Regions from separate parts of the Homo sapiens genome. Here region 1 is linked to region 2. Evidence: fine-mapped expression QTL. A gene starts in region 2. The other region holds a variant in brackets. All regions are shown on one strand. Distances are from middle to middle. Region 1 overlaps LAMP3 (lysosomal associated membrane protein 3). Region 2 holds the start of LAMP3 (lysosomal associated membrane protein 3).

Evidence for each region. PIP is the estimated chance that this variant, and not a neighbour inherited with it, causes the effect.
Region 1: its variant is the best candidate, but not a certain one, in a credible set for the expression of LAMP3 in fibroblasts (GTEx, PIP 0.73).

The regions. Positions count from the first base shown.
Region 1 is chr3:183,129,396-183,133,784 of GRCh38, reverse strand. All of the region lies in intron 5 of LAMP3 (lysosomal associated membrane protein 3), which reads left to right. Among named protein-coding and RNA genes, the nearest start is that of LAMP3, 31 kb to the left of the region's middle. The variant C/T (reference allele first, on the strand shown) is at 1,834.
Region 2 is chr3:183,160,421-183,164,809 of GRCh38, reverse strand. LAMP3 (lysosomal associated membrane protein 3) reads left to right here and starts at 2,076. Exons shown (of 6, transcript NM_014398.4): 1 at 2,076-2,203. The coding sequence starts at 2,155. RefSeq lists a silencer at 1,866-2,075 and an enhancer at 2,688-2,897.

The DNA.
Region 1 (4,389 bases), 31 kb after region 2:
GAGCCTGCAAACATTGTGTTTTGTTTATTGAGTTTTAGGGTTTTTGCTGTCCTTTTCTTTTGCTGTTTATTATGCTGATTTAGGAGCCCCAAGCTATCTGAGCAGCCCCTGTAAGAAACACAGAGTTAGGACTGGGCGTGTTGGCTGACTCCTGTAATCCCAGCACTTTGGGAGGCCAAGGCAGGTGGATCACTTGAGGCCAGGACTATGAGACCAGCCTGGCCAACATAGCAAAACCCCATCTCTACTAAACATACAAAAAACTAGCCCGGCATGGTGGTACATGCCTGTAATCCCAGCTACTCGGGAGGCTGAGGGATAAAAATCACTTGAAATCAGGAGGCGGAGGTTGCAGTGAGCCGAGATTGTGTCACTGCATTCTGGCCTGGGTGACACAGTGAGACTCTGTCTCAAACTATTACTAGAGTTGGAGAATATGGCTCCGGGAATTACTCTAGTTTGAGAGTCAAGACATAACTCTGATCACAACCCTCTAGGCCAAACTAGCATTTTCTCAAAGTTGGATCTGCCTGGAAGCAGCATCAGAATTCCCCTGGCCTCAGCTCAGACCCACTGAATTATCATTTCTTGGGCATGTGTCTGGGCATCTGCAATTTAATAAGCTCCCTAACTAATTACCAGTGCTACACGTGTCAGATCCACTGTATTGACCCTTTCCCTCTCGTTTTCACCCACTGTTGTCTGAGCCCCAACAGCTCCATCTTCCCCTCTGTCTTCTTTTCTCCAAAGCTGAGGCAGATGTGGCAGTGCCACTTCCCAGCATTTGTGGCCAGTCTGTAACACTTGTTACTCTGACTTCAATTACAGCGGATGAATGCTTCAGTGACAGAAACAGGAGAGAAATCCCTGTGGCCATGGGCCTGAGTATCACAGGACTGCTTGTCATTTTGCTAACCGCATGTCTGGTGGCCAGAAAGAGGCCCAGTAGAGGATATGAACGCATGTAAAGCCCCACTTTCTTCAAAATGTGCAAAGTTAAGGTCTTGGGAATTCCAGCATCATATTCAGCCTGAAGTGAAAGGATTGACCTGTCTCGTTGCCTGTTGCACCCTCCTGAGCTGATTAGGAAACCTAACTTTCCACCAAAGGGCTACCGCAGTGCTGGGAAACAGCACCTCCCCTACTTCCTCCTGTTGCTTTGGGGAGGCCATGCCAGGTGTGCTTGATGCCCTCTGCCATACCTGAATATACCAGTGCTGGCTTCCGGAATTAGGGGCAATAGGCAGAGACATGAGTGGGGTGCTTGTGAGAAGGGAGAAAGCGAAAACCCGGAGGGAGAATTGTGGGGAAGACGTTTACAAATTGACTGATTTTTCTTATACATTTTCAAGAGTCCTGATTTTCAGTTTTTAAAAACATTACTTTAAAAAAACCAATGCATTTCAAAGTTGATTACAAAATGATTTTAAACTCCTGGATTTTACCCAAATTTTGTTTACTTAAATTATAGATGATCTTAATATGCTATTATTTTAAAAAAACATATCCTACTCTATTGTAATGTATTATCAGTTTAAAAAATTAGGAAACTGCCTATTTCACTTTTTTAATTTAAAGCACATATCAAAGATCATGGCAAAAAAGGAGGGGCTCAATAAATGTTAGCCCTTCAGTTGCTTCAATTTCATGTGTTGTCTGCCTTCTTAGCTACTTTTTTCCGGGTTTGTCGGCTTTTCTTTGATGTTATTTTATTCTTGTAAATGTGTCCATTTGGACCATTGCAGGACAGGAGGGAGACAGAGCAGGGAGACAATATGGAATGGCAAGCAGGAAGAGGTAGACCTGCCTGGAGGATCACTCACTTCCCTTTTA[C/T]GCAAACATTCACCAAAAGCAGTACATTCCTGATGGGGGACGGTTGATATCTGAGGGAAAAATTCTATTAAAATATGGCTTAGGATGTTATTCATGGTTTCCTATTACATTGATGGGGGTTTTTCATTCAGAGAAAAAGGAGAGGTATGTTCTTAATTGATTCTACTGACTGGAAGTTTTCTTGTTTTTCCAAATTTTCCAGAGGTGCCATTCATTATTTTTAACATGACATTTATGAAATTTGGCAACAACTCTAAAACTACTGCCTACTTAGGAAATGTACTGACTCTCCCAGGAGGCATTTTTGCTCTCCTTGTTTTCTTAGAATTGGGGCTGTGGGGAGGGCACACCGCAGCTTCAAAAGAGCACTAAGAGCCCCTGAAGACATCCAGAGTGTCAGAAAATGTCTGTTTCCCTCTTAAAACAGATGTTGATGACAATCTGATATGAGGACCCGGGAGTTCCCCAAAGAGACTCGGGCTTAACAGCAAGAGCTTGGCTTTGGAGAGCTGTGATCTCCTTCCACCTCCTCCTTCAAACTGGCACCTGCTCCAGGCTCCCCTGTGTCCAGTGTTAAGGGCACTCGAAAGTTCTGTAGGGCAGAGGACAAGGTGTTTATTCACCAGCCACTCACTCTTCTGCAGAATGATTAATGTAAGATTTACCTTCTAGCATGTGGAAATTTCTCCCCTAGCAGATGAAACAAGAAGCAGAATTTAAAATCAAGTATAGAGGGATATGACCACTTAAATTTAATTTTCCTCCCTACCTTCTTCAGTGAGTTCTTTTGGATGATGGCCACTGCTTGGACTCCTGCTATCTATTCCCCCGACCCCAGTACTGATTATTTTTAGAATTAATTTGAATTAGCATTCTGGTAACCACAAAAAGCAAAGGTTTCATTGGAATGGCCAGTAAATAAACGCTTGGATGTGTAATTTACTCACAGTCCTGCCCACTTTCCAGGTGGAGAGCAGAGGGGGCAGTGGAGCTGGGCTCCTCACCTGCCTCCCCTCCTAACCACACACACATTCACCCTAAGAAGCCTGTGATGAGAGGGAAAAAAATTCTGTGAACTCCTCCATTACTAAACCTGGAGGAAAAAAAAAAGAGTGGGTTGCTTTATTTTCTTCGTTTTCCAACCTAGGGTAGTGAAAATGGCTCCCAGGAAGACTGGGAAGAGTAAAGGGAGGGACAGACGGAGGTGAACTGGGGAAGAAACCCCAAAGCAGACGATCGCTCCAGGCTGCAGCTAGTTTCCATGCTACAAAAAAGAGAATAGAATCCAAATATCTAACCCAAAGGGAAACATTAACTGATCTCAGATGCAATGGAAAGAAAGACCATAATTCACCCAAACGGCATCATAGGAAATGGAGTATCTCGACTGCCACGCTCAAGCATGAGCAAGATGAAAACAAACTGCATGGCCACTGTGCCAAAATACTGCAGCAAAATAAGAATAGTTTGAAATTAAATTAAGAAAAGGAGTGAGGCCAGGCACGGTGGCTCACGCCTGTAATCCCAGCACTTTGGGAGGCCGAGGCGGGCGGATCATGAGGTCAGGAGATCGAGACCATCCTAGCTAACATAGTGAAACCCCGTTTCTACTAAAAACACAAAAAATTAGCCAGGCGTGGTGGCAGGCGCATGTAGTCCCAGCTACTCGGGAGGCTGAGGCAGGAGAATGGCGTCAACCCGGGAGGCAGAGCTTGCAGTGAGCCAAGATGGCACCACTGTACTCCAGCCTGGGTGACAGAGCGAAACTCCGTCTCAAAAAAAAAAAAAAAAAAAAAAGGAGTGAGGGTGTATTAGTTTGCTAAGACTGTCTTAGTAACATACCACAGTCTGGATGCCTTAAATAACAGAAATGTATATTCTCACAGTTCTGGAGGCTAGAAATTCAAGGTCAAGGTCTCAGCAGCATTGGTTTTTCTGAAACTTCTCTCCTTGGCTGTAGATGGCCTGTGTCTTCACGTGGTCTTCCCTCTGTACCTGTCTGTATCCATATGTCCTCTTTGTGTAAGGATACCATTCATATTGGATAGAGGCCCACCCTAATGACCTCATTTTAACTTACTGACTTCTTGAAAGACCCTGTGTCCTAATACATGTTCTGTGGTCCTGGAAGTTAGGGCTTCACCATGTAAATTTGGGGGCAGGGAGGGGATACAATTTAGTCCATAACAGAAAGTTAGAAATGAAAATAGTAAAATACAAAGAAAACATAATTCAAGGAACAGAAAGAAATTCCTGACAATTGCTTGATGCTGAGAATCACTTAATGTGAATTCCAGGTAATCAGAGTTTAAAGATAAGATGTTAAAATGAAAGAGTAAGAAAACAAGATGAGTGTCAAAGCAATACACTGCATAATGTATAGAAACAGTCAGAGGCAGAATAAATAGGGAGGAAATTATATTATTTTCATAGAGAGAATGACTGAGATCATTACAGGTAATACAGATAAACCTTATGATTAAAGCATTACAGGGAAGCTACTAGATATAGAAGCTATTCAGCCCATCCAACATAAGTATAATTGGTGCCTCTGAC
Region 2 (4,389 bases):
CAAAGTTATTTTTCAGAAAATAATTTGAGGCTAGGCTGAAAGCCCTCAATCTAGTGATAAGGAGGGTCTCCTAATATACTGCTTAAATGTGTATTCCCCACTGGGACTCAAGCCCTGTCAAAACATCGTTGTTTTGACAGACAATCCAATTAATAGAGGAAGGAGATAAGACATTAAAAGGTTGCCTGTCAGCGTTGTTGAGCCGTGGGCCGTGGCTTACGCCTGTAATCCCAATGGTTGGCTAACGCAGGAGGATCATTTGAGGCCAGGAACTCGAGACCAGCCTGGGCAACACAGCGAGACCTCCTCTCTACATAAAATAAAATAAAATAGCTGGGCGTGGTGGCACGCGCCTTTGGTCCCAGCTACTCAGGAGGCTAAGGTGGGAGACTCACTTGAGGCCAGGAGGTCGAAGTTGCAGTGAGCCGAGATCACGCCACTGCACTCCAGCCTGGGTGATAGAGCGAGACCCTGACTCCAAAAAAAAAAAAAAAACGATATTGTGTGTTTTTTGTTCCAGGATTTTCTGGTCTGTAAAACCACCTGGGGCCAGGCACAGTGGCTCACGCTTGTAATCCCAGATCTTTGGAAGGCCGAGGCGGGCGGATCACCTGGGGTCAGGAGTTTGAGACCAGCTTGGCCAACACGGTGAAACCTGGTCTCTACTAAAAATACAAAAAATTAGCCGGACGTGGTGGCGCACATCTGTAATCCCAGCTACTGTGGAGGCTGAGGCAGGAGAATCGCCTGAACCCAAGTTTGCAGTGAGCCGAGATCACGCCATTGCCCTCCAGCCTGGGCGACAGAGTGAGACCCTGTCTCAAAAACAAAAACAAAAACAAACAAACAAAAACAAAGAAAGAAAAAGAAAAAAGAAAATAAAAAAACACACTGGGAGTGGGCATTATTATGTCCGTTTTACAGCTGAAGAATCCAAGGCTCCTAGAGGTTCCCCGACGCCGCACGCCGGGGAGTCGGCAGCGCGAGCTCCCAGCCAGACCTAGCGCCTCTGGGCTGTGCTCCTGTTGCTTCCCGCAAACCGCGGTCCTGGCGAGGCCTGGGCGTGGAGCGCGGCTGCCGCAGACTCCCTGGGAAGACATGGAGTCAGGGTGCTTAGGGGTTTTTAGGCTCCTGCTCGCCTAGTGGCTGGCTTTCTCCCGGCTGAGAAGCGTCTCTGGGTTCCCAGAAAGGTACCCGAGCTGTTAGAAAAGAGGAGACCCTGGGCCGGGCGCAGTGGCTCACGCCTGTAATCCCAACACTTTGGGAGGCCGAGGCGGGCGGATCACAAGGTCAGGAGATCGAGACCAGCCTGGCCAACAGGGTGAAACCCCGTCTCTACTAAAATACAAAAATTAGCTGGGCGTGGTGGCGGGCGCCTGTAACCCCAGCTACTCGGGAGGCTGCGGCAGGAGAATCGCTTGAACCAGGGCAGTGAGCCGAGATCCCGCCACTGCACTCCAGCCTGGCGACAGAGCGAGACTTTGTCTCAAAAAACAAAACAAAACAAAACAAAACAAAAGAAATAAAAAGAAAAGAAATAAAAGAGGAGACCCTGGCCGGGCTCGGTGGCTCACGTCTATAATCCCAGCACTTTGGGAGGTCGAGGCGGGCGAATCACGAGGTCAGGAGCTCGAGACCAGCCTGGCCAATATGGTGACACCCCGTCTCTACTAAAAATACAAAAATTAGCCGGGTGTGGTGGTGCATGCCTGTAATCCCAGCTACTCGGGAGGCTGAGGCAGAAGAATCGCTTGAACCCGGGAGGCAGAGGTTGTAGTGAGCCGAGATCGCGCCACTGCACTCCACCCTGGGCGACAGAGCGAGACTTCGTCTCAAAAAGAAAAGAAAAAGAAAGGAGGAGACCCAGGGTATGAGCGGAGGAGGCCGGCGCTGCCGGGACCACGCGCGTGCGGTAAACGGTCCCAGAGGCCCGGGCCCCGGCGGCTGCGCCGAGTCCCCGCCCCTCCCTGCTCCGTAGGGGTAGGAGGGGGCCGGCGGAGTTTCCCTCCCCGCCCAGCGGCCCTGGGCGGGCTTTTCGGCTGCTTCTCATAAGCAGGTGGTTTCGTTTCTCCGGCACAGGTAGGTTTCTCTGGCACCGATTCGGGGCCTGCCCGGACTTCGCCGCACGCTGCAGAACCTCGCCCAGCGCCCACCATGCCCCGGCAGCTCAGCGCGGCGGCCGCGCTCTTCGCGTCCCTGGCCGGTGAGTGGCCCTCAGCGCTTCCCGCGGTGGCCCTGACGTGTCGGTCCCCTTTCATCTAAACGCACTCTGGAGTCCCGGGCGCCACAGGACGGGCTGCGGGTAGGGAGGTGTGGCGCGTCCAAGGGCTTCCCAGCTGGAACTTGTTTTCCGTGAGTTACTCAGAGCAGGTGTCAACCCCAAAGACAGTGACACTGTCCCTCGCTTCCAAAAGGGTTCTGGACACCTTCTCAGGGAGAGTTTGTAGAGGTCACTCGGATTTAAGAGATGGAGACCTGAGCTAGGGTTTAGGAATGGGAGTCTTGGCTTTGTTATCCGGGAAAAGCGCTCCTGTCTTGCTTTTCCTTGCATCAGATGTGGTCTGACAGATTGTGCCATTTCAGAAAGGTGTAGGAAGAGTGTCAAAGACTTTTTTTTTTTTAAATGATCATTGTACTTCCCATCCCAGATGCCGTCTGGGACGCTGAGTTTATGATTATTTTATGATCCGACCCTCCGCTTTCTCCAGAGCTTTTCCCCCTAGACATTGAGTCCTCGGGTGCTGTGGTGTTGTCCCTGTGATGAAGTTTCCTGGTTACTCGAACGTCATGAGAGAACTGTCTCCGTCCCTACCGCCCGGCTAACATGCTCAAGCAGGGGGCGCGGTGGCCCTTGCTTGTAACATGAATGCTAGGAATGTTAGGGAAGAGGTGAGAAGGGTCGTGCCAGCTGCCCTTGCCTAGGCAGTTCTCCCCTGCGCCACACTTTCACACTTACAGTTTCAGGTTCTTTTAGGGGACAGAAGAGGAAGTCATCATCACGCTCCACAGGGCAAGCTATTAAAAAAGCAAAACAATCTCAGCCTAGCGGTAACCCACAGTGACCTGTATGTGAGCGCTCCTTGAATGGATGGATAGGCTCAGAAACACAATGGTATTGACAGGCCAGGCGTGGTGGCTCACACCTGCAATCCCAGCACTTTGGGAGGCTGAGGCCGGCGGATCACTTGAGGTCAGGAGTTCGAGACTAGCCTGGCCACCGGTGAAACCCCGCCTCTACTAAAAATACAGAAATTAGCCGGGCATGGTTGTGGGCGCCTGTAATCCCAGGTACTCGGGAGACTGAGGCAGGAGAATCACTTGAACCCAAGAGGCGGAGGTTGCAGTAAGCCAAGATCATGCCACTGCACTCCAACCTAGGTAACAGTGAGACTCTGTCTCAAAAAAAATAAATAAATAAAAATAAAAATACAGTGAGTATTGACAAATGCAAGGGCAAGTGGAGAGAAAATGCCCACATTACCGGTTCCTTTCTGAGCTACAAATTCTCAGAGGTGAGCTAGGTGAAGGATGCATCAGAGGTTTCTTCCTCAGAGGTGGAGGCCTTTGAGGGGTGGCACGGAACTGGATTCAAACCCTTGCCCTGACCCTTCCCAGCAGGGAGGCCTTGTTCACATCACCCAACCTTTCGGGTGCTCAGTTCCCTCACTGAAAAATGGGGAGAATAATATCCTCTGCTAGGAGTACTGGGGAAACAAATGAGGTAGCACCTGGACAGCAATTACTGCAGTGATTTTGCTCAGTGATGTTAACTCGTATCTCCTGTTTGTCCCTCCAGTCCCTCTCCCATTCACCTCACAACCTGACCTTGAGCCCCTTCTTCACTCAGTACAGGGCTCATCAGCACATGGTAATTAACAATGATGGACATGGCTTCCTGGCACTCTCTGCATGCCAGGCACTGTTCGCAGTGCTTTAATCCACAAAACAGCTTTGTAAGTACTGCTATTGTCTCCGTTTTACTTGCGAGGAAATAGAAGCACAAAGAGGTTAAATAACTTGCCCCTGATCACATAGCTAGCTGGTGACAGAGTCGAGCTTTGAACCAGAGTCTGTGCCCATAGCAGCTAACCTATGTGCTTTACTCATACATCTACTTACCTATAACTTATTTAGTCTCATAAGAACCCTGAAAAGTAGGTGCTATTCTTATCCCTATTTTACAGATGGCGGTACTGAGGCAGAGGCAGGTTAAGGAATTGTTCATGGTCTCCCAGTTAGTGAGTAGCATTCCTGAGACTGGCATTCAAGACATCTGGCCTTGGCTGGGCACAGTGACTCACACCTGTAATCCCAGCACTTTGGGATCCTGAGGTGGAAGGTCGCTTGAGGCCAGGAGTTTGAGACCAGCCTGGACAACATAGTGGACTG